3 separate regions of the Homo sapiens genome follow, and regions 1 and 3 are each linked to region 2. The links come from fine-mapping of genetic effects on gene expression. A gene starts in region 2. Each other region holds a variant in brackets. All regions are shown on one strand. Distances are between the middles of the regions.

Evidence for each region. PIP is the estimated chance that this variant, and not a neighbour inherited with it, causes the effect. A credible set is the group of variants that fine-mapping cannot tell apart.
Region 1: its variant is the best candidate, but not a certain one, in a credible set for the expression of LAT in sun-exposed skin (GTEx, PIP 0.72).
Region 3: its variant is the best candidate, but not a certain one, in a credible set for the expression of LAT in whole blood (TOPMed, PIP 0.83).

What each region holds. Positions count from the first base shown.
Region 1 is chr16:28,106,173-28,117,110 of GRCh38, forward strand. It overlaps XPO6 (exportin 6), which reads right to left. Exons shown (of 24, transcript NM_015171.4): 16 at 6,732-6,878; 17 at 5,645-5,834; 18 at 1,350-1,505; 19 at 211-325; 20 at 1-42. It overlaps LOC124903669 (a long non-coding RNA gene), which reads left to right. Exons shown (of 2, transcript XR_007065032.1): 2 at 3,153-3,571. It also overlaps the pseudogene TPRKBP2. Among named protein-coding and RNA genes, the nearest start is that of GSG1L, 48 kb to the left of the region's middle. The variant G/A (reference allele first, on the strand shown) is at 5,917.
Region 2 is chr16:28,982,335-28,987,334 of GRCh38, forward strand. LAT (linker for activation of T cells) reads left to right here and starts at 2,718. Exons shown (of 12, transcript NM_001014987.2): 1 at 2,718-3,183; 2 at 3,379-3,406; 3 at 3,520-3,554; 4 at 3,801-3,882; 5 at 4,048-4,112; 6 at 4,206-4,235; 7 at 4,323-4,380; 8 at 4,465-4,559. The coding sequence starts at 3,084. SPNS1 (SPNS lysolipid transporter 1, lysophospholipid) reads left to right here. Exons shown (of 12, transcript NM_032038.3): 8 at 22-211; 9 at 523-588; 10 at 858-956; 11 at 1,452-1,623; 12 at 1,871-2,209. The coding sequence ends at 1,965. RefSeq lists silencers at 2,479-2,758, 2,779-2,838.
Region 3 is chr16:28,837,604-28,844,262 of GRCh38, forward strand. TUFM (Tu translation elongation factor, mitochondrial) reads right to left here. Exons shown (of 10, transcript NM_003321.5): 7 at 6,627-6,659; 8 at 6,347-6,498; 9 at 6,133-6,252; 10 at 4,808-5,545. The coding sequence ends at 5,372. It overlaps MIR4721 (microRNA 4721), which reads right to left and starts at 6,404; the gene lies at 6,316-6,404. RefSeq lists a silencer at 4,240-4,397. The variant G/A (reference allele first, on the strand shown) is at 3,660.

The sequences.
Region 1 (10,938 bases), 870 kb before region 2:
CCTGTGCTGCCCTCGTGGAGGATGCTCTCGGCTAACTGCTCTCTACAGAGGAGAAAGCCACACAGTGAGCAACCACATGTTTCTCTGGGGGCCAGCATGAAAACCCATGCTGTGGCAAGTGCAGAACAGGAGCAAAAAGCCACACTTTGTCGCCAGACCCACCACTTCTCCCTTGAATCTGAAAACTATAGATGGTGGGTCTGTGCTTACCTGGTAAACATGTTGAGGAAAGTCTGTATGATTTGCTCAGTGAAAGGCACACCCATCTGTACTCTAAGGCCTCGAAACAGAGTGAGGAAGAAGCTCAGCATCTCATCAGTCACATCTGAGGAAAGGGGCAGAGATATCGTCAGAGGCTTGCACACAGTGAGAACCAGAACCCTGGGCTTCATCAACCTACTCCTGAAATCTGCACTATCAGCTTTCTCTACAGCTTCCTGCTGGAAACATTTCCCCAACACCATCAGGGCCAATGATGGAAAGTGGAAAACGATTAGGGACATGCTGAGAAAATAGTTCTGGTATAGGGAACCTCCACCTGGTGGCTCACTACAGGAAATGAAGGTCATCTCGAACCCTCCCTCATTGCCCGACATCCAGTGATGGTCAGAGTTTCACTGGAGAGGGATCACTTTGTGCCCACACTGATGAATGCCAACTGGGTCAACACCTGAGTGCTTAAGCCATTTCCCCCTATGACTAATAATCCCTGCAGCTGGGTCAGGGGTTAAGTGGTTGAAAGTGGATAATGAAGGTGTATTTAGGTTGCATGGCCCTGGTCCATTAAATGGATTAATTGCAGAAAATACTGGTTACATATAGGGCAGTTTCACTTCCAGATCTCAACAATCATCTTGTGTAGTGTGTTTCAGCCCTAACTGCACGCAATCTGCTTGCAAGAGGCAATGAATATTTGCTGACTGAGAAGTGCCTGATATTTCTCTTGTAAAACTGACAAGACTACTATAATGCTGTCATGAGAGCTAGGCAAGTACATCCACAGAGCTAGAGAGGCCCTCTATCACTGACAGTGACAGACAAGGGTGAGGGGAACGATCTCGGCAAATGCACCTTGCCACAAAATAAGGAGAACTAAGCCAAAAAAGCTCTCTTGCCTTCTCTTGTAGGTGCCAAGGCCCATATGGAGAGCTCTGCTCACTTTTCCAAAGGGCCTTGGCCCTAGACTCCACAAATAAACATCACTGCCCTTTCCCCTCAGTACCGGGTTTCGTTGCACGGAACAAGTCAAGGCCTGTACTGCACCGACTCAGTGTGTTCTACAGATCTAAGTGGGTATTCTGGCCCTTGTTAGCACCACCCACCAGTGGGGCCTCTGGGCCAGCTCCTACCTGACTGATGGATAAAAGCTGGAAAGAGGGCCAGGGAGACCTGAACAGATTCCTGCAGCGACTGGTAGCAAATCTGTCGAGACTTGGTGGACTCCCCCGAGATATTCTCCACAATATCTTCTAAGACGCTGAGTGTCTGGTGGATAATCAGTTTGGCTGCAAATCAAGATGAGTTGCAGGTTATAAGCTGTCTGGGGAGAAAGCATGGTAAGAGGAGACACAAGGGAGAGGGAGGAAACTTGCAAAGGTACCAAGAAGATGATCACACGAGTCTCACTAAAGGAACAGTCTCTTGATTACAATATAAATTCTCCTCTCTTTATGTTTTAGTTTTTGTTTTTACTATTATTACTGCCAGGACTCCAGAAGCCTGGAATGTGTGTTGGGGAGAAGATGCCTGCCTGCCTGCTTGCTCAGGTTTTTGCCTCTGTTTTGCCTCTGGCCATTGGCAACAAGTCCACAGAAGAAAAAAGATAAATAAATGTACCCCCAGGTTGGGTGCCTTGGATTTAATCAAATCTAAAAGATGGTGAATAGACTGGTGAGAAAATGAGTGTCATAAGGTCACAGGCCAGGACGGACACATGCAGCTCAAACCTTGTCACTCAGTGGGATGCTACTCCAGCCCAGTAATCCCACAAACACCTGCCATGCACATGTAATGGTGCTGGCTGCAAGAACAACCTGCCTGATCCATCTTTGGCCTATTAGCCCCGTAGCTTGATAAGGCATATAATTACTGTTATTATGTTATTGACAATACATAATGCTAACCCTGAGATGACTTTTGACTCCATATGGCACACAGGGAAAACAGATGTAGTGGGCCGCAAACAGGCAGAGGTCAGAGAGCCCTGGCTATGAACCACAGGTGACCATCTGAAGGCTATGTGCCATGGGCAGGACCCTCATCCATCTGGGAGAGCCGACAACCCCACTCTGGCAGTGCTGCAGTGGGGATTAGAGACAAGGTCCCGAACGATGCTAGCAGTGTGCCAGCCATCTAAGAAGGTCCAGGACGGAGATGCTGCCATTGTTCCCAGCGCGAGTGGAGTCACCCTCTTAAGATGCAGAGTTTCCCACCAGCCTCCCCAAAGTGACGCCCATGGCTCAGCCTGAGCCTAGCAGACTCAACCCTGGCGACCACCAGAGGCTGAGCCAGAGCTGGGCTGAGAGCTGCCTCCCACTTGGCAGCAGTCTCTGGGTCCCCCGAACCCCAGTGCTCAGCAGCCTCTGTGGGACTGCCGCAGCTTTGAGGAAGGGGTACGGCAGAAAGAAGACATGCTCAGGAGGCAGATGGAGGCAGGCCTGGCCCTGCTGCCCCTCATCTGAACACGTGGATAGAGAGCATCGCCCCACTCACAGGGCTGAGGATGAAGGAAGACGCTTCTCGCCACAGGCCTGGTCCTGGTCCCCCAGTCACAGTGACACTGGAGAGTAAAGGAAAGGCTCACCCACACTGCTGAGCAGGGAGCCGTCCACAACTACAAGCACATGGACTTCTACTCAGCTAGGAAACTGCACTCAGGGCAGCCACTTCCTCAAGAACGCACAGGCAACAGGGGAAGCAGTTTAGAGCAAAAAACCAACAGTCAAGAGACCAAAATCTGACCTCTGGCATTTAAGGAAATTCAAACGAGGACAAAAGATGTATTTAAAAAAAATACAAGTCAAAAATTGAAAGCACTATAAGTATATAATAATAGGAGAATGGGGTGGGTAACTGTTATACTTCCATGAGACAGGACATTATAAAACCATTAAAACCTTTTTTCTTTTCTTTTTTTTTTTTTTGTTTTCAAGAAGAAAGAGGCAATGCAGCAAAGTGGTGCAGAACACAGGAGCTGGAGCCATTCAGACCCAAGTCCAACTCTTGACCTCGCCCACTTTCTCTACAGTCCTGAGCAATTACACCTGCCAAGCACCTTCCCAATGGACAGACTGGCAGGCCCTACTCCCAACAGGCATCCAGACTGAGCATCACCAAGGATGGGACAAACAGAAGCAATGCAAGAGGAAATGCGAACACGAACATGCACCACTACACCACAACCTATGGAAACAATCAGGCAAAACAAGACTAGGAGACATATGACAAGAAAACAGGCCTGGACGCTTCAAAAATGCCAATGTCACGAAAGACAAAAACTGGGCATGCTCTTCTGGATCAAAGGAGACTAAAGAGATATAACAACCAAACACAATAAAACTATCCTAGATTACATCCTGGATTTTTTAAAAGCAAAAAAGAACAATTTGGTAACAACTGGGGAAAGTGTTAATATGGCTACATTTTAAATAACATTATTGTACCAATGTTTAATATCTTGTTCTATATAGATACAAAGGTTAAGTAGTCAGAGATGAAGTGTCAATTATCTGCAACTTAAACAGCTGGCTTTTAAGAAAAAGTGTGTTGCAGAAAAAAGCATAAATGTGGCAAAACATTCACAATTAGTGAATCTGGGTGAGAGAGATGCAGTTGTTCATTTTCTTATTCCTTTGGCTAGTCTGTAGGTTTGGAATTTTTTTTTTTCAAAGTATAAAGTTGAGATAAGAAAAATGAAACTTTCCAACCTTAATTTCAACACTGTGGAATGAGGATAAGACATACCTCACAGGGTTACAGGGTTACACAGGAAGTTACATGAAATAACGTATACAAAGTGCTCAACCCAGTGCCTGCACACAGTCAGCATACTGAAGACGTCATTCACATACTACACTGCAAACCCTTTCAGCACACAGTGGCATCACACCTCCCTGCCCTCTGAGTTAAGCCAAGGCCATGTAGCTGGCTCTGGCCAAGGAAATAGAGGTGGAAGTAGTGTTAGTTTCAGGCAAGACCTTTAAGAACCACTACGCAATTCACCACAATCCCTTCCAGAGTGAACACACTGAAATGGAGCCTTCCACAGCCTGGGTCCCTATGTGACCTCCCCACTCTGCTGACCCAAGCTGGACATATAGTACAAACAACATATCCTTTTTCTTCTTGTATTAAGCCACTACACTTTTGGAGTTGTTTGTTACCACTGAGCATATCCTCGCCCATGCAGACCAACATAACTCCCATGTAAGATAAAGTGCGGAAAGGAGACCATTACACGTGATAAAGCATGACTCCACAACAGCTGGATGCAAGCCCTGGGCAAGTTCCTTAATCTTCTAGACCTCAGCTTCCTCATGCTAATCATCAATCAAGATCCTAACAGTACCGAACTCATAAGGCTAATGTAAGAACTGAATGAATTACTGATTTTTGAAAAATACTTAGAACCAGGAAGAGACCAACACCAGACTTTGAAAGTTGATACTGGCATAGCCAGAGACTTGACGATGGATATAGAATCACCAAGGCAAGAGCCTAGTACACAGTATACCCTCAATATGTCAGCTACTCTCATCCAGCTATGTAACCATGAAGCATATTTTAAAATAGAAAAGGGAAGGTAAGAAGGAAGCATGGTTAAAATGGTTACTTTCTAAAATATTAAAACTGGTCAGATTTAGGAGTTACTTTTTCCTTCTTTGTATTATTCTATTTTAATGTATTTGTACAATGCACATATGTTAATCTTCCTAGTTATAAAAGTAGTGTTTTTTAAAGAGTATAGTATTTATTACTATTTCTGACATTTCACAAAGCATTTTTGCTGACATTCCATAAATGGCACCATCTAATAATGTTCTATTATTTTCTTTTTGTGAAAGGAGCTCGTATTTTTAAAATATTTCGGTACTATTTGTTATTTCAAAGAGATATTTCCTTATTCATTTTTTTCCCTCTTTCTTTAATATAAACAAGCAAACTTCAAGTGCCATTTTTTAAGAAACTAAGCTCTTTCAAAACCTCTGGAAGATCTGTATTTGGAAAAAGGTTGAAACCAATCTGGAAAAATAGTTCTTGAGCGCATTTTCCCAGCGTGTAGAGGTGAACTGCTTTGTTTGCCTACACAAGCATCTGAAATAGATCAATAACCACCTTAAGATGTATTTTATAGACAGAAGGCACCATCACCAGTGTCTTCCATTTTTTCTTAGGGCTCCAGCATTTTTTACATTTTAAATAAGAGAAGGGACAGTTTGATTCTGGAAATAGGTCTGGCTGCTGTCTTAACTGAATTCCAAAGGTAGCAGGATCCCACCCCCAAGTATGACTTCCTGCTCAGCCTCTGTGGGACTATGAACAAAAAAAATTTACCTCAGGAGCCTCCGGGGCAAATCTCATCTGCCACAAAGAACAATGCCTGCCTACCTCCTTCCCCAGCTGTCCTAGCCTAGGGGTCACTTACTGTCATCCAGTGGCATCTTTCTCTGTGGGGCAACAGCACTGGGCTTCAGGTTGCGATAGTCCCGGGAGAGTGCAGAGATGAGGCTGGCGTGGTTGATGGAGCGCACGGGCCACTGCTGCTCATTCTCTGGAAGGTTTGGCCACGGAAGCAGCAAGATGTTAGAGAGGGCTCGGCACACCAACACCTGGGCCTACAAGAGACCCCAAAGGCATCCATCAGAGGTCAGAGCCAAAGACCGTGGTGCGGCATGCCCAACACAGCCTTCAGCACCC[G/A]CTGGCTGCACACCTGGAACCCTAGCCCCCAGGCTCGTTTCTTGCAACCTGGGCAAGGCCTTTGGTCCAACTGGAAGGCAACTTAGGGAGGAAGATGAAATGAAGTAATAGCACCATGTCTAGGTCTAGCATAACCCAGAGCTAACCTCTCGTTTCCTCTCTAATCTGATACTTGAAGTATTAGAGAGGGAAAAATCACACTGCAGACACTGAATCTCAGGCATTGTTCAGCTGGTGGCTTCTGAGTCCTCTGAGAAGCTACTTAGAGCAGGACTTGCAGGAGAATCCGTGACAATCCATGCCCCTAGCACCAGGTCACATCCTGCAATCACATCCTGGTGCCCTCTGGTACCCTCTTCAAACCTTCCTGCCCTCCCTCCTGTTAGGTGGTTTTTAAACTTCTAGCTTGAGCCTCCTTTGAGGATTCTAAGAAAATGCACTTGCCTGGCACTTCTCAACCCCAAAGAACACACACAGAACAGTGACAACAAAAACCAGACTGCTTTGAATCAGAAAGAATGCAAAGAGAATTCTCACAACACTGGCCGAAATTACCAGGCTGCAAAGCAGCAAAACCTTTCTGCACACTGGGAGGTGCTTTTCCACGCCTCAATCAGCACACTGACTGCCTGCCTTAGAATGGGCACGATGAGAATCACTGAGTCTGTGTCAGTGCCACACAATAAGAAATCTGTCTATGCTGGTACAGCCTGTAAGCTCTGAGTACAAAATCAAAGGCCAGACTCTTCTTCCTCAGCTTCCTTGGGTCTCAGTCACACAGCCCTGGGGACCCCGGGGGAGCTCTGGGGCCTCACCTTATCGACAAGTCGCAGGGCAGAGGCATCAGTGATTCTGTTGAATACTTTCTGCACTGCAGGGATGCTGATCAGAAAGACGGGCCGCACGGTGGTGGCCAGTGAGACCAGTAAGTGGCACGCAGATAGCAGCAGCTTGTCTTGGACCTGCAGAGGGAAGAGGGCACGTCAGCTCACCACATCCCTGTAAGACTGGGATTCGAACTTTGCTGAGGCAGCCACAAGCTATGTGTCATTCTTGGTTTCCAAATTACACCACCTAGGCCCTATCTAGCTCAAGAATTTTTCCTATGATGACTACAAGAGAAGCCCATCTTCTCTGTCATGTCCACAGCTCCTGCCGCAGCCATTATCACCTCCTCCCGTTCCTCCTTCACAGTCACCAGCAGCCTTGAACTCAGGCACTTCTCAGCTTAGAGTCTGCAGTGGCTCCCTATCAGCTATTAAATCACACTCCCTGGCATGTCATCCAGGTCCTAGAATTCTTCACCTCACTAATTGTTCCAGCAGAGCCAAGATCTCCCCGAGCCCCCGACTCTTCTGTGCCTTAACACTCAGGCCAGTCTCTCCTACTGCTTTCCCTTCAGCATGCCTATCAAATACTTGGTTCAATTACCACTGTTGCTTTCAAATTAGCAAAGGAGAAAAACGTGTTACAGATGGGACCTAATGCTGGTAAGACTAAGATAAAAACAGCACACCAAAAAGTCAAGGCAGGCAGAATTACTTCGGGAAAAAAATTACTATGATTTCCCAAAGTCACAAAATATTCCTAACCTTTAACCCTTACTCTAAGATTACCTATAACCTATAATACTTACTCTAAGAAGATTACCTAAAAGGGTAAAGCTACATTCATGAATGTGTGCATTTCAGAATTCTTTATAATTTTTTATTTTTTAAGGGAGGCAGCCTAGAAGTCCAGCAATGGCTAGGAAAATAATGAAACATATTCCTGATGGGATAGGACTATTTTCAAAGTTATAATTATAAATACAACATAAATTTATGGAAAGCAACACATTGTTATTAAAACAATACACTGTTTAAAAATGTATAAAATGTTATGTATGACTAAAACTACAAAAAAATTCAAAGAATAAACACATATATGCTCTAGTAATATAGCAGACTTGGAGGATAACATAATAGAATCTGTCCAGTTTTAACATGGATATAACCTTTGACTCAGTAATTCCACTTCCAGGAATCTATCCTTCAGGCCCACTAGCATATGTAAGATGGACATAAAAGGAACTCATTTCTAGCAATAGGAAAATTATTATACATCCTCACAAAAAAAAAAAAAAAAAACCACTGGACATTTTGACAATCTGAAGTTGCTGTACATATGTAAAGGAAAATGAAGGCATACTGTTAGGCAAAAGCAGCTATATCTCCAGCTATCTACAAACTTAGTTATTACTTATTACATAAAAAGAGAAAAAAGTCTGGAAGGATATACAGGCATACCTCAGAGATACTGCAGGTTCAGCTCCAGACCACCACAATAAAGCAAATTATGCAATAACGCAAGGCACACTAATTTTTTTGTTTCCCAATGCATATGTTTTGTTTACACTATAGTCTATAAAGTGTGCAATAAGCATTATGTCTAAGAAAACAATGTACATATCTTAGTTAAAAAGTAGTTTATTGCTAAAAATGCTAACAATCATCTGAGCCTTCAGAGCGGTAATCTTTTTGCTGGTGAAGGGTCTTCCTTGAAAGTGACTGCTGCTGACTGAACAGGGTGGTGGTTGCTCAAAGTTGGGGTGGCTGTGGCAATTACTTAAAATAAGACAACAATGAAGTTTGCTGCATCGATTGACTTCCTTTCATGAAATATTTCTCTGGAGCATGCGGTGCCGTTTCATAGCATTTTGCCCACAGTAGAACTTCTTTCAAAGTTGGAGTCAGTCCTCTCAAACCCTGCTGCTGCTTCATCAACTGAGTTTATGTGTTATTCTAATCCTCTGTTATTTCAACAATGTTCACAGCATCTTCACCAGTTGATTCCATCTCAAAAACCCACTTTCTTTGGTCATTTACAAGAAGCAAGTCCCCATCTGTTCAAGCTTGATCCTGAGATTGCAGCAATTCCATCCCATCTTCAGACTCCGCCTCTAGTTCTCCTGTTATTTCCACATCTGCAGTTACTTTCTTTACTGAAGTCCTGAACCCCTTAAAGTCATCTATGAGGCTGGGAACCAACTTCTTCCAAACTCCCATTAATGCTGATATTTTGATCTGCTTCCATGAATCATGAATGTCTTTAATGGCATCTAGAATGGTGAATCCTTCCCAGAAGGTTTTCAGTTTATTTGCCCAGATCCACTGGAGGAACCACCATCTATGGCAGCTATAGTCTTATGAAACGTATTTCTGAAACAGTAAGACTTGAAAGCCAAAATTACCCCTTGACCCATGGGCTACAGAACTACAGAATGGATGTTGTGTGAGCAGCCATGGAAACTATGGAAACTAATATCTTTGAACATCTCCATCTGAGTCCTTAGGTAACCAGGTGCATTGCCAATCAGCAGATTTTGAAAGGAATCTTTTTTTCTGAGCAGGTCTCCATAATGAGCTTAAAATATTCAGTAAACCATGATGTAAACAGATGTGCTGTCATTCAGGCTTTGTTGTTCCATTTATAGAGACAGGCAAAGTAGATTCAGCATAATTCCTAAGGGCCCTAGGATTTTCAGAATGATACATGAGCACTGGCTTCAACCTGAAGTCTCCAGTTGCAGTTGCCCCCTGACAAGAGAGTTGGCCTGTCCTCTGAAGCCAGGCACTGACTCCTCCTCTCTGGCTATCCAAGTCCCAGATGGCACCTTCTTCCAGTATAAAGCTGTCTCATCTACACAGAAAATCTGTTGTTTAGTATGGCCACCTTCAGCAGTGATCTAGAACTTCTGGAGAACTTGCTGCAGCTTCTCCATCAGCACTTGCTGCTTCATCCTGGAGATGGCTTCTTTCCTTAAACCTCATGAACCAACCTGTGTTAGCTTCCAACTCTTCTTCTGTAGCTTCCTCACCTCTCTCAGCCTTCACAGAATTGAAGGGCCTGATCTGGATTTGGCTTTGGCTTAAGGGAATGTTGTGGCTAGCTTGGTCTATCCAAACCACTGAAACCTTCCTCATATCAACAACAAGGCTGTTGTACTTTCTCATCACTCATGTGTTCACTGAAGCAGAAATTTTAATCTCCTCCAAGAACTTTTCCTTTGCATTCACAACTTGGCTGTTTGGCTCAAGAGCCTTTGGCCAGGCCGGGCGCGGTGGCTCACGCCCGTAATCCCAGCACTTTGGGAGGCCAAGGCGGGCAGATCATGAGGTCAGGAGATCAAGACCATCCTGGCTAACATGGTGAAACCCCGTCTCTACAAAAAATACAAAAAAATTAGCCAGGCAAGGCGGCAGGCGCCAGTAGTCCCAGCTACTCAAGAGGCTGAGGCAGGAGAATGGCGTGAACCCGGGAGACGGAGCTTGCAGTGAGCCAAGATCACGCCACTGCACTCCAGCCCGGGCGACAGAGCGAGACTCCATCTCAACAACAACAAAAACGACAAAAAAAAAAAAAAAAGAGCCTTTGGCCTATCCTGGCTTTTGACACGCCTTCCTCACTAAGCTTAATCATTTCTAGATTTTTATTTAAAGTAAGAGACATGTGACTCTTCCTTTCACTCGAACACGTAAAGGTCATTGTAGGGTTATTAAATGGCTCAGGGAATAGGGAGGCCTAAAGACAGGAAGATGGGGAAGCCTCCAATCAGTGGAGCAGTCAGAACACACACATTTATCAATCAAGTTTGCAGTCTTTGGTTTGTGGCACTCCAAAATAATTACAATAGTAACATTAAAGATCACTGATCACAAATCGCTGTAAGATATAGTAACAAAAAAGTCTGAAATATTCTAACAATTACCAAAATGTAACACATGGAAGCACCAAATACTGTCAAAAAAATGGTGCTGACAGATTTGCTTGATGCAGGGTTGCCATAAGCCTTCAACTTGTAAAAAACACAGTCTCTGTGAAGCGCAATAAAGGGAAGTGCAATAAAATGAGGTGTGCCTGCACAACCACTGCCCAACTGTGCTTACCGCGCGAAGGAAAATGTTTCAGAGGTATCACAACTTTTTAGTCTGGAAATCTGAATGATATTTTACTTTTTCACAGTGAGCATGTATTCATGTG
Region 2 (5,000 bases):
ATTCCCTTCCCTCACCCCTAGTCTCATCTTTGGACTCATCACCTGCCTGACCGGAGTCCTGGGTGTGGGCCTGGGTGTGGAGATCAGCCGCCGGCTCCGCCACTCCAACCCCCGGGCTGATCCCCTGGTCTGTGCCACTGGCCTCCTGGGCTCTGCACCCTTCCTCTTCCTGTCCCTTGCCTGCGCCCGTGGTAGCATCGTGGCCACTTATGTGAGTAGCCAGCAGGTGTCAAGGGGGATGGCGTGGGTCCAGGGTGGAGGAGCAGTCAGCGTAATGGCCACTCGAGGTGGAATGCCTGGTTTTGAATCACAGCTCTGGCTCTTCCCAGCTGTGTGACATTGGACAAGTGACTTAACCTCTCTGTGCTCAGTTTCATCATGTGTAAAATGGGGATATTAGTAGCACCTGTCTCACTGGGGTGTGATGAGGATTAAATTAGTTAATAGATGAGCTGGGAACATGGTCAACTTTCCATGTGTTAGCCCTTACTGTCATGAACCCCCGACCCTCTCTTCCCCCAGATTTTCATCTTCATTGGAGAGACCCTCCTGTCCATGAACTGGGCCATCGTGGCCGACATTCTGCTGGTGAGTTGCTGGGCAGCTCCAGGGTCAGCGCAGAGGCTGATGAGAGCAGAGTTGGGGTCAGGAGTGTTGCCTCTACCCCTCAAAGCCCAGCCTCAACCTACCTTCTGCAATAAATAACATCTGTAGCAGACCCCCGGCCTGCCCTGCGACCTCAACCCCAGGCACACCTCTGACCCCGGCCTAGGCGGATCCTTGGTGGTCTCCTGGCCCCCTGCCTCCTGCCCCCTGGAGCCCAGAGCATCCACTGAGCTCCACCAACTCCTCCACAGTACGTGGTGATCCCTACCCGACGCTCCACCGCCGAGGCCTTCCAGATCGTGCTGTCCCACCTGCTGGGTGATGCTGGGAGCCCCTACCTCATTGGCCTGGTGAGCATTATTTCTTGGCTGGCATGGGGTGGCTGGTGTCCTGAGCCTGGGCTGGATCAGAAGGCCTGGCCCTAGTGAAGTGTCTGTGTCCTGCGTGCTGGGCACTTCTCACCTTCCATTGTCAACTGGAGGAGAAAGATTTTGTCTTTGAATATTTCTACCAGTAAGGCCAGGGACCTCACCCTGGTGGTCCAAACTCCTCCTTTCTTTTCTCTTTTCTTTTCTTCCTGAGACAAGACCTCACTCTGTTGCCCAGGCTGCAGTGTAGTGGCACGATCATGGCTCACTGCAGCCTCGACCTCCTGGGCTCAAGCGATCCTCCCACCTCAGCCTCCTGAGTAGCTGGGATGATAGGCATGAGCCACTGCATCTAGCTCAAACCTCCTTCCCTTTCCTGGGCTCCACTTGTCTTTCTCCCTGGAGCTCAGGGGCGTGCCCTCCCTGGTTCATCCATGAGGCTGACTCCCCTGGCTTTCCTGTCTCCTCTCCCTGCAGATCTCTGACCGCCTGCGCCGGAACTGGCCCCCCTCCTTCTTGTCCGAGTTCCGGGCTCTGCAGTTCTCGCTCATGCTCTGCGCGTTTGTTGGGGCACTGGGCGGCGCAGCCTTCCTGGGCACCGCCATCTTCATTGAGGCCGACCGCCGGCGGGCACAGCTGCACGTGCAGGGTCAGTTAGGAGCTGTGCCCGGCCCAGCTTCTTGATCTGCCTGTCTGTCTGTCCATCTGTCTGCCCACTCCTGTGCACCTGGCAGCTCAGTCCACAGCCCTCCCCTTGTTTGGCCTCCAGTCTGTCTGCATCCACCCCTGGGGTGGCTCTGTGGCTGCCCCATCCATTTCCCGCTGCCTGTTTGCCCTTCTCTGGCTTTGTCTGTCTGTCCATCCAGCTCACCCTGGCTCTGACCCTCCCCCCTCAGGCCTGCTGCACGAAGCAGGGTCCACAGACGACCGGATTGTGGTGCCCCAGCGGGGCCGCTCCACCCGCGTGCCCGTGGCCAGTGTGCTCATCTGAGAGGCTGCCGCTCACCTACCTGCACATCTGCCACAGCTGGCCCTGGGCCCACCCCACGAAGGGCCTGGGCCTAACCCCTTGGCCTGGCCCAGCTTCCAGAGGGACCCTGGGCCGTGTGCCAGCTCCCAGACACTACCTGGGTAGCTCAGGGGAGGAGGTGGGGGTCCAGGAGGGGGATCCCTCTCCACAGGGGCAGCCCCAAGGGCTCGGTGCTATTTGTAACGGAATAAAATTTGTAGCCAGACCCCAGGTGCCTGCTCTCGTCTTTCTCTGGGTGGCCTCTGATCTTGCACCCCGTCTTCACCCCAGGGCTCCTGAAGACTGTGGGTCATTCCTCAGGGCTCTGGGTGAGTCTCTGCCCTTCTGGGCTGGGCGACTGAGATGGGGGACTGCTCTTCTCCGAGTGAGCTGGCTGAGTGTGACCGTGAGTCACGCCCCTGCTTCCCTGGAGCCTGTCCCTTGCCTCACAGGCCTGGCTGAGGTGGGGGTGGGCACTGCCCTTTGTACCCCAGAATTCCCACTGTCAGGGCCTCCCTGCTCGCTGCCTCCCCGGGTCCTGGATATGGAGGCCACGGCTGCCAGCTGGCAGGTGGCTGTCCCCGTCTTGGGGGGGGCCAGCAGACCCTTGGTGAGTGCCTGGGGTGGCTCCCGGGCCTCCTCCTGCCCCCTCCCCACTGGCGGGTGGGGTGGGAAGGGGGCGGGTGCAGCCGGCTGAGAGCTTGATGATTTCCTGCCCTCGCCCGGCGCTCACCACAGCTTCCTGCCGCAGGCGGGCGGGAGGGCGGGCACGGAGAGGCGGGCGCCGAGGAGGGGCAGGTAGGGCTGGGACGCAGGGGTAACTGGATCCCCCGACTTCAGCCCAGGCCCTGGTCTGACCACCCTGGGAGCAGGGACTTTCCACAGTCAGCTGGACGCACACTCAGCCCAGTAAAAGAGGGGACCCATCCCGGGAGCCCCGGGGAGGGCACAGCTGCCTCCTCCCGGGCTCCCCTGCCACCTGGTGCCTACCTGCCCCCTGCTCCCTGCCGGGTCCGGTCCTCACCCCATCTTCATCTGGCCTTGACTCTGCCCTTGAGGGGCCTAGGGGTGCAGCCAGCCTGCTCCGAGCTCCCCTGCAGATGGAGGAGGCCATCCTGGTCCCCTGCGTGCTGGGGCTCCTGCTGCTGCCCATCCTGGCCATGTTGATGGCACTGTGTGTGCACTGCCACAGACTGCCAGGTGAGTGGGAAACTGGTGGGGGTACCCAGGGCCCAGGGACACCGACGGGATCCTCATCCACTCCCAGCCCCTGTGTCTGTCCTGGCTCTGTCCCTGCCTCCGTCCTGATCCCAGCGCCTCTGAGAGTCCCTGGATCCCAGCACCTTCTGCCCTAAGCACCCCCTGTTCCTGCCTCACCAGCCCTCTCTTTCCCAGGCTCCTACGACAGCACATCCTCAGATAGGTGAGTCCGCCCCAGCCGCCCTGGGTCTCCCTCCACACCCCATGGCGGGGCAGGGCTGGGGCTTCCATCCTCCATCTTCCAGCCCCATCCCCAAGCTGTGTCTCCTTTACCAGTTTGTATCCAAGGGGCATCCAGTTCAAACGGCCTCGTGAGTACAAGGAGGGTCCCCTACCTTGGGTGCCAGGGAGAGGGTCCCCTGGTGTGGGAGTGAGCGTGAACCTTCAGACTTCCCCTGCCACCTTGGGGCTGCCCACATGGCCTTGACCTGAGCTGGGAGAGGGGAGATGGCTCCCCCAGGCCTGTCCAGGGTGTGGGGCTTTCAGGGGCTTAGTCTGTTCTTTGAGGCCTTGACGATGTCCGGAGTCCTTCTTTCAACTTGGTTCTGTGTCCTCAGACACGGTTGCCCCCTGGCCACCTGCCTACCCACCTGTCACCTCCTACCCACCCCTGAGCCAGCCAGACCTGCTCCCCATCCCGTGAGTAGCTGCTCAGCCCCTGCCCCTCCAAAGCTCAGCCCCTCCCCCTCCAAACTCCACTCTCTACCCCTTCACTTTTTTGGATTGGGGGCCCCTTTCCCTTTTGCAACTGCTGTTGCCCCCTGAGCCCCACCTCAGGCATGACCCCTGACCTTTGACTCCCAGAAGATCCCCGCAGCCCCTTGGGGGCTCCCACCGGACGCCATCTTCCCGGCGGGATTCTGATGGTGGTAAGTGTGGGGAAGGGTTCAGGCGGCGGGGGCTGGGAAGAAGATAGGCCTGGCCTGAGCTGACTTAGTCTCCCTCTCACCCTCTCTTTGAAGCCAACAGTGTGGCGAGCTACGAGAACGAGGGTGCGTCTGGGATCCGAGGTGCCCAGGCTGGGTGGGGAGTCTGGGGTCCGTCCTGGACTAGGCTGACCCCTGTGTCGTTACCCCCAGAACCAGCCTGTGAGGATGCGGATGAGGATGAGGACGACTATCACAACCCAGGCTACCTGTGAGTGGCCAGGTGGGAGGTGGGAGGTGAGGGCTGAGGCTGTGCGTCCCCCCTTGCTCACCGGCCCTTTTCACTTCCTTTCAGGGTGGTGCTTCCTGACAGCACCCCGGCCACTAGCACTGCTGCCCCATCAGCTCCTGCACTCAGCACCCCTGGCATCCGAGACAGTGCCTTCTCCAGTGAGTCAGGCATTTGTTTTTATTTTTAAATTTTTTTAGGGATAGGCTGGAGTGCAGTGGTGCCATTGTAGCTCGCTGCAGCCTTGAACTCCTGGGCTCCAGTGATCCTCCCAAGTAGGCTACTCGGCCTCAGCCTCCCAAGTAGCTGAGACCACAGGCGCATGCCACCACACCTAGCTTATTTAAAAAATTTTTTTTGTAGAGATGGTCTCACTATGTTGCCCAGGCTGGCCTTAAACTCCTGGGCTCAAGTGATCCTCCCACCTCGGGCTCCCAAAGTGCTTGGGATTATAGGCGTGAGCCACCATGCCCGGCCCTGTTCTTCTGATTTTCTCAGCTTTCTCTCTCTTCTTTCCTATCTCTGTGTCCTTTCCTTTATCATCTGGGAGATTTCCTTGTCTGTATTCTTCAACCCTTCCACTGCAATTTTATTTCTCCTAT
Region 3 (6,659 bases), 140 kb before region 2:
GGCGTGGTGGGACATGCCTGTAATCCCAGCTACCTGGGAGGCTGAGGCAGGAGAATCACTTAAACCCAGGAAGCGGAGGTTGCAGTGAGCTGAGATCACTCCATTGCACACCAATGGTGGCCAGTTTTTGAAATCTAGGATGATGGGGAGCCAGATCGGGATCCTGTGCCATGCATTTGAAGGTGGGTTCCAGACTTCATGTGAAGTTGTGTAGTTGATGACTGAGGTTCTGGATGACCGGATGGCTAAAAGCACGTGAGATGGGAGTCCGCTTCCCAGGATGGGACAGCAGTGGCACAGTTCCCAAGGATGCTGTCCCTGACTGGCTCTGGAACTGCTACATAGATAGCTCACCCAGCTGTCTAGTGACTATTTTCTCATCTTGAACTTGGCTTCATCTCAAGGTGTGATTCAAAGTTTCATTTCTAATATGAGTATCTCATGAATTACATACACCTCTTTATGTTGAAGGGTGAATGTTTATGGTCATTGGAATTAAAATCCTGATGGATGTGCAGCTGACTGTGGATGAGAGCTGTAAAGGTGAAGCTGTTAGTGGGAGAAGAGGGGAGAGGATTGGTTGGGAACTGGGCTTACTGGGGAGCAAGAGCAAAATTAGGCATTATGGGTGGGACAAGAAGATTGAAGCATGGGATGTGGAAATGACAGCAGGCTCCAGAGGAGGTAGTTTTTCAAGGAGGTTGAGAATTCTCTCGGAGACTTGACCTTGGTTTCCTTGCCTAAAATGGAGGTGATTTCACCTTTCCAGGATTTTAAGGAAGTGGCTGGTGCTCAGTGGTAGACGGGTGTTTCAGCTCTCACCAAAGCCAGAGAAAGCTGGCTGAGACCAGGACAGGAAGAGTGAAGGCTACAGTATTGGGGAAGAATCCCAGCATATGCAGATTTGGAACTTGGTAATAGGTGTACATGGTGGGGTGGAGAGAAGGGGTTATTAAAGAGGTTAAAAAAAAAAAAAAAAAAAAGGACTTTATGTGGTAGCCACTTGGATGCTAAAAATGGGCGGGGTTGGAGTCCCAAGAGCACTCAGCAGGTAGATGTGGGGTGGTGCAGGAGCTGCAAGGCTTCAGCTGGGCTCAGGATATTTGAAGTGTAGATGGAGAGACAGGTATCTACTATGAAATATGGCAAGTATTACTGGGTAATCTTTCAATTTTTTTTTTTTTTTTAAGAGACAGAGTCCCATTATGTTGGCCAGGCTGGTCTTGAACTCCTGGGCTCAAGCAGTTCTGCCTTGGCCTCCCAAAGTGCTGGGGATTACAGGTGTGAGCCACCACACCCAGCTGAGTAGTCATTTTGATGCTTTCTGGAAGGACTGCAGATTGTACAGCAGTCCGCCCGCATCTGGGGGGGATGTGATCTGAGATCCCCAGTGGATGCCCATAGTACCAAACCTTATGTATACTATGTTTTTTCCTATAGCTATGATGAGGTTTAGTTTCTAAATTAGGCACAATACTCTTGTGCTTCGGGGCCATCACTGAGTAAATCAGGGCTACTTGAACACAATCATTGGAGTGCTGTAACGGTCAATCTGATAACCAGCACGGCTACTAAAGTGACTAACAGGCAAAGGGATGGTTCACGTCCTGACAGGATGGATGGAGCAGGATGGCAAAAGATTTCATCATACTACTCAGAATGGTGCTCAACTTAAAATCTGAACTGTTAAATAGAAAATTCTAGGCCAGGTGCGGTGGCTCACACCTGTAATCCTAGCACTTTGGGAGGCTGAGGTGGGTGGATCATGAGGTCAAGAGATCGACACCATCCTGGCCAACATGGTGAAACCCTGCCTACTAAAAATACAAAAATTAGCTGGGCATAGTGGCGCATCCCTGTCGGCCCAGCTACTTGGGAGGCTGAGACAGGAGAATGGCTTGAGCCCGGGAGGTGGAGGTTGCAGTGAGCAGAGATCGTGCCACTGCACTCTGGCCTGGCGACAGAGCGAGACTCTGTCTCAGGAAAAAAAAAAAAAAAAAAAGAAAATTCCAGCTGGGTGCGGTGGTTCACGCCTGTAATCCCATACTTTGGGAGGCCGAGGAAGGTGGATTATTTGAGGTCGGGAGTTCGAGATCAGGTTGGCCAACATGGTGAGATGCCATCTCTACTAAAAATACAAGTTAGCCAGGTGTGGTGGTGGGTGCCTGTAATCCCAGCTACTTGAAGGCTGAGGCAGGAGAATCACTTGAACCCGGGATGCAGAGGTTGCAGTGGGCCGAGATCGTGCCACGGTACTCCAGCCTGGGTGACAGACACTGTCTCAAAAAAAAAAAAAAAAAAATTCCAGAAATAATCAGACCAGTGTTGACAGTGGATAACTGAAACCAGGGATAAGGGCAGAGACTACTGTATGTTTACCATCTTTGAGCAGAAATCTCAAAGTTGGAAGGGAACTTAGCCTTCAGCCAGCCAGAAATTCCTCTTGGCAGCCCGTCAGCCTTGCCTTGAGCACTGAGGAGAAGACAAATCTGCCCTGTCATTGGACTTCTTTTTGCAAAGTTCTTCCCTCTTCCTCTTCTCTCACCCACTTCCCTTAGTTTGCCTCTGTTCTGGAGTCAAAAATCAGGTTTTGCATTTTCTCAAAACAGCTCTTAAGTTGGGCCCAAGAGCCCTCCCTTCTGGGAGCTCATCTTAGCCATCCTGGGTGTGTATTCATTTGTCAGGATGCATTTGTGATAGGGGTGCCTGTTAACCTCTGCCGAGCCTTGCTTTGCTTGGTGTCGGCATCCTTGCCAGTCATCACTCCCAAGTTTTTGAAATTCACTCATAGTTTATTCCCTGCATATTAGAGAAGTGGCCTTTTTCTTTCTTTTTTTAAATTTATTTTTTCTTTCCTTTTTTTTTTTTTTTTTTTTGAGAAGGAGTCTCACTGTGTTGCCCAGGCTGGAGTGCATTGGCGCAATCTCGGCTCACTGCAACCTCCGCCTCCCTGGTTCAAGTGATTCTCCTGCCTCAGCCTCCCAAGTAGCTGGGATTACAGGTGCCTGCCACCACGCCCGGCTAATTTTATTTTTAGTAGAGACGGGGTTTCACCATCTTGGCCAGGCTGGTCTTGAACTCTGACCTCATGATCCACCCGCCTCGGCCTCCCGAAATGCTGGGATTACAGGCGTGAGCCACCGCGCCTGGCTATTTTTTCTTTTTTATATAGAAACAGAGTCTCCCTATGTTGCTCAGGCTGCTCTGGAACTCCTGGGCTCAAGGGATCCGCCTGCCTCGGCCTCCCAAAGTGCTGGGATTACAGGCATGAGCCACCACGACCGGCCTTTTTCTTTTCTTTTGAGACAGAGTCTCACTCTGTCGCCCAGGCTGGAGTGCAGTGGCGCAATCTCGGCTCACTGCATCCTCTGCCTCTCGGGTTCAAGTGATTCTTGTGCCTCAGCCTCCTGAGTAGCTGAGACTACAAGCGCAAGCCACCATGCCTGGCTAATTTTTTTTTTTGAGACGGAGTCTTACTCTGTTGCCCAGTCTGGAGTGCAATGGTGTGATCTTGGCTCACTGCAACCTCTGCCTCCCAGGTTCAAGCGATTCTCCTGCCTCAGCCTCCCAAGTAGCTGGAATTACAGGCGCCTGCCACTACGCCTGGCTAATTTTTGTATTTTTAGTAGAGACGGGGTTTCATCATAATGGCCAGGCTG[G/A]TCTCGAACTCCTGACCTCAGGTGATCTGCCTGCCTTGGCCTCCCAAAGTGCTGGGATTACAGGCGTGAGCCACCGTGCCTGGCCTCGGCTCAAGTATTTTTAAATCAAGTTTTCTTAGACATTACACACTTAATAAGTTGACCCTTAAGTGATTGGGGTTCAAACTGCACAGATCCACTTACATGTGAATTTTTTCAAATACAAGTTACACCGAGTCTGCCTGTCTCCCCTTTGGCCTCCTCCTAAGAAACGTGAAGACAATGAGGGCCTTTATGATGATCCACTTCCACTTGATAGTGAATATATTTTCCTTATGATTTTCTTAACACCTTCTCTAGTTTTATTGTTTTTTTGTTTTTTTTTGAGATAGAGTCTCGCTCTGTCACCCAGGCTGGAGTGCAGTGGCGCGATCTCAGCTCACCGCAACCTCCGCCTCCTGGATTCAAGCAATTCTCCTGCCTCAGCCTCCTGAGTAGCTGGAATTACAGGCATGTGCCACCACACCCGGCTAATTTTTTTGTATTTTTAGTAGAGACAGGGTTTCACCATGTTGGCCAGGCTGGTCTCGAACTCCTGACCTTGTGATCCACCCACCTCAATCTCCCAAAGTGCTGGGATTACAGGCGTGAGCCACCGCGCCCGGCCACTCTCTAGTTTTAAGAATACAGTATATAATACATATAACACACAAAGTATGTGTTTGTATGCTATCAGCGAGGCTTCTGGCCAGCAGCAGGTTACTAGTTACATTTTGGGGGAGTCAAGTTATATGTGAGGAGCCAGACACGGTAGCTTACACCTCTAATCCCAGCAGTTGGGGAGACCAAGGTTGAGCCCAGGAGTCCAAGGCTGCAGTGAGCTAGGATGGTGCCACCGCACCCAGCCTGGGTGACAGTGAGACCCTATATCTCTTTTTTTCCCTTTGTTCAGCCTCCCCATAGAGACCGTCGAAAATTGCCAATGCTGATTATATTTCAAGTCATCATGGAGTCATTGGCTATGATACTGCCACTGCACAAAGCTGGCCCCATCTCAAAAACAAGTTATATGTGGATTTGTGGCTGCATGGAGGAGGGCTGACACCCCTAACCCCTGCATTGTTCAAGGGTCAACTATAATATAAACATAACTTCACTGAGAAATCAAAAAATTTGTGACCTGCTTTATTGTGGTAGTCTGGAAGCAAACCTACAGCATCTGAGGTATGCCTGTCCAGTCCCTGTTCCCACAGAATGTGAATGGATGCTAGACATTCACTTAGTATTCCGAGGAAACAAGATGGGTTTGGCACCTGAGCTGAAGCCATGCTGGCTCCAGAGCGATAGAACATTCTTTCCCACTATCTCCCAGGAGGCTGAATAACGGCATCCTACTGTGTCTAGGCAATCACTAAGCTCACTGGACTTGATTTATCCGTTAAAACTGCTCTGGGATCTCACAAGCTCCCCATCTGTCTGGGGTTCAACACCCTTTTTGTCCTCCCCTATCCTCTCCAATTTGCACAAAGGACACAGGACACAGGCTGGCTTACTATTCAAAGTTTACTGACCTCCCCAGCCAGGCAGGCCAACCCTTCCGAGCAGGGGAAATGTCCATCTAGCTGCCCTCTGCTGGGTTGCAGCCTATGCCATGAGAGGGTACTGGAAGCAGGAGGGAGCCCTGGCTAGGGCAGGCCTTAAACGCAAGGGAAGCTGAGCAGAGATCTGCACACTCAACCCCATTTGATATTCTTCTCCTCCTCAGTCATGGCCAGCGTGTTGGTGACTAGACCGGTGCCAATAGTCCGGTTGCCATCTCGCAGGGTGAAACGCTGGCCTTTCTCTAAGATCATTGGCTGCCGCAAGATTAGGTTGAACTTCAGGTCCTCCCCGGGCATGGCAAGCTCCTAGAGTAGGAAGAGAAGGATCATGCGTGGCCTCCAGGGTGCCTTCATTCCTTAAGTCTTTTTTGGCTACCTCGGAGGTTAAGAGTCATGGGAGAATGCAGCAGGGGAATGGTTCTGCCTGGGGACAGCTTCATCCATCCCAGGCTGTCAGGCAGATGCAAACAGCATATTGAGACAGGAAAACATAAAAGAGACCAGTGATGAGTGTTCCTAAGGTATGTTCTTGAGAAAAAAATGTCTAGGAAGTTGTGGGTTATGCAGGTTTCTTGGTCACAGAACTTCTTAAGCCTTCATATATAATGAAACGCTCAAAAAGAAGAGACCTTTTCTAGGAAATCTTTCTGTGGGTACATGCTGGCAGAGCTAAACTTTTAACCTGCTTCAGCTTAGGGCACACTGGATGAGGACTCCCGCCCCTAAGTCCATGGGCCATGCCCCTTCTGTTGGCTAGCAGCGGCAAGCAGCCCCTTTCCACCTAAGGAAATAAAGCCACTCGGGTTGTCACAGTGTATCTTTGGAACTATGAGTGAAGCAAAGGTAATATAAAAAGTCCCCCCTCCACCCTACATTCCTCCCACCCACCGTACCTTCTCTGGGGGCAGGATAATCCGACAGGCCATGTCCCAAGTCAGGGAGAACATGACAGGCATGAAGTGGGACACAAAGGGCTTGTGGCGGCCACCTTCCTCCTTGCTGAGGATGTAAACCTGGAGGAGAGCAAGCAATGACGGTGAGCTGGGCTTGGCTGGAGGCTGGGGAGAGCTTGGCTCAACCCTGCCCACCGTCACCTGGAGCCCTCACCTGGGCCTCCACCTTCTGGTGGGGCTTGATGGAACCTGGCTTGACCATGACCAGGCCCCGCCGCAAGTCCTCCCGCTTCAAGCCTCGGACCAGGGCCCCGAGGTTATCTCCGGCCTCGGCCCTCTCCAGGCTCTTGTGGAACATCTCAATGCCTAGGACGGAAAGGGAAAAGGAGCAGGGAGAAGGAAGGCGAATGTGAGACAGAGGGAAGGCACAAGGGATCTGCCGGGGTAAGGCCACCCTTCAGCCAGGCCCTGCTCTCCAGACTGGCTTCCCAAACCTGTCACCACAGTGCGGATGTTCTTGCTATGTC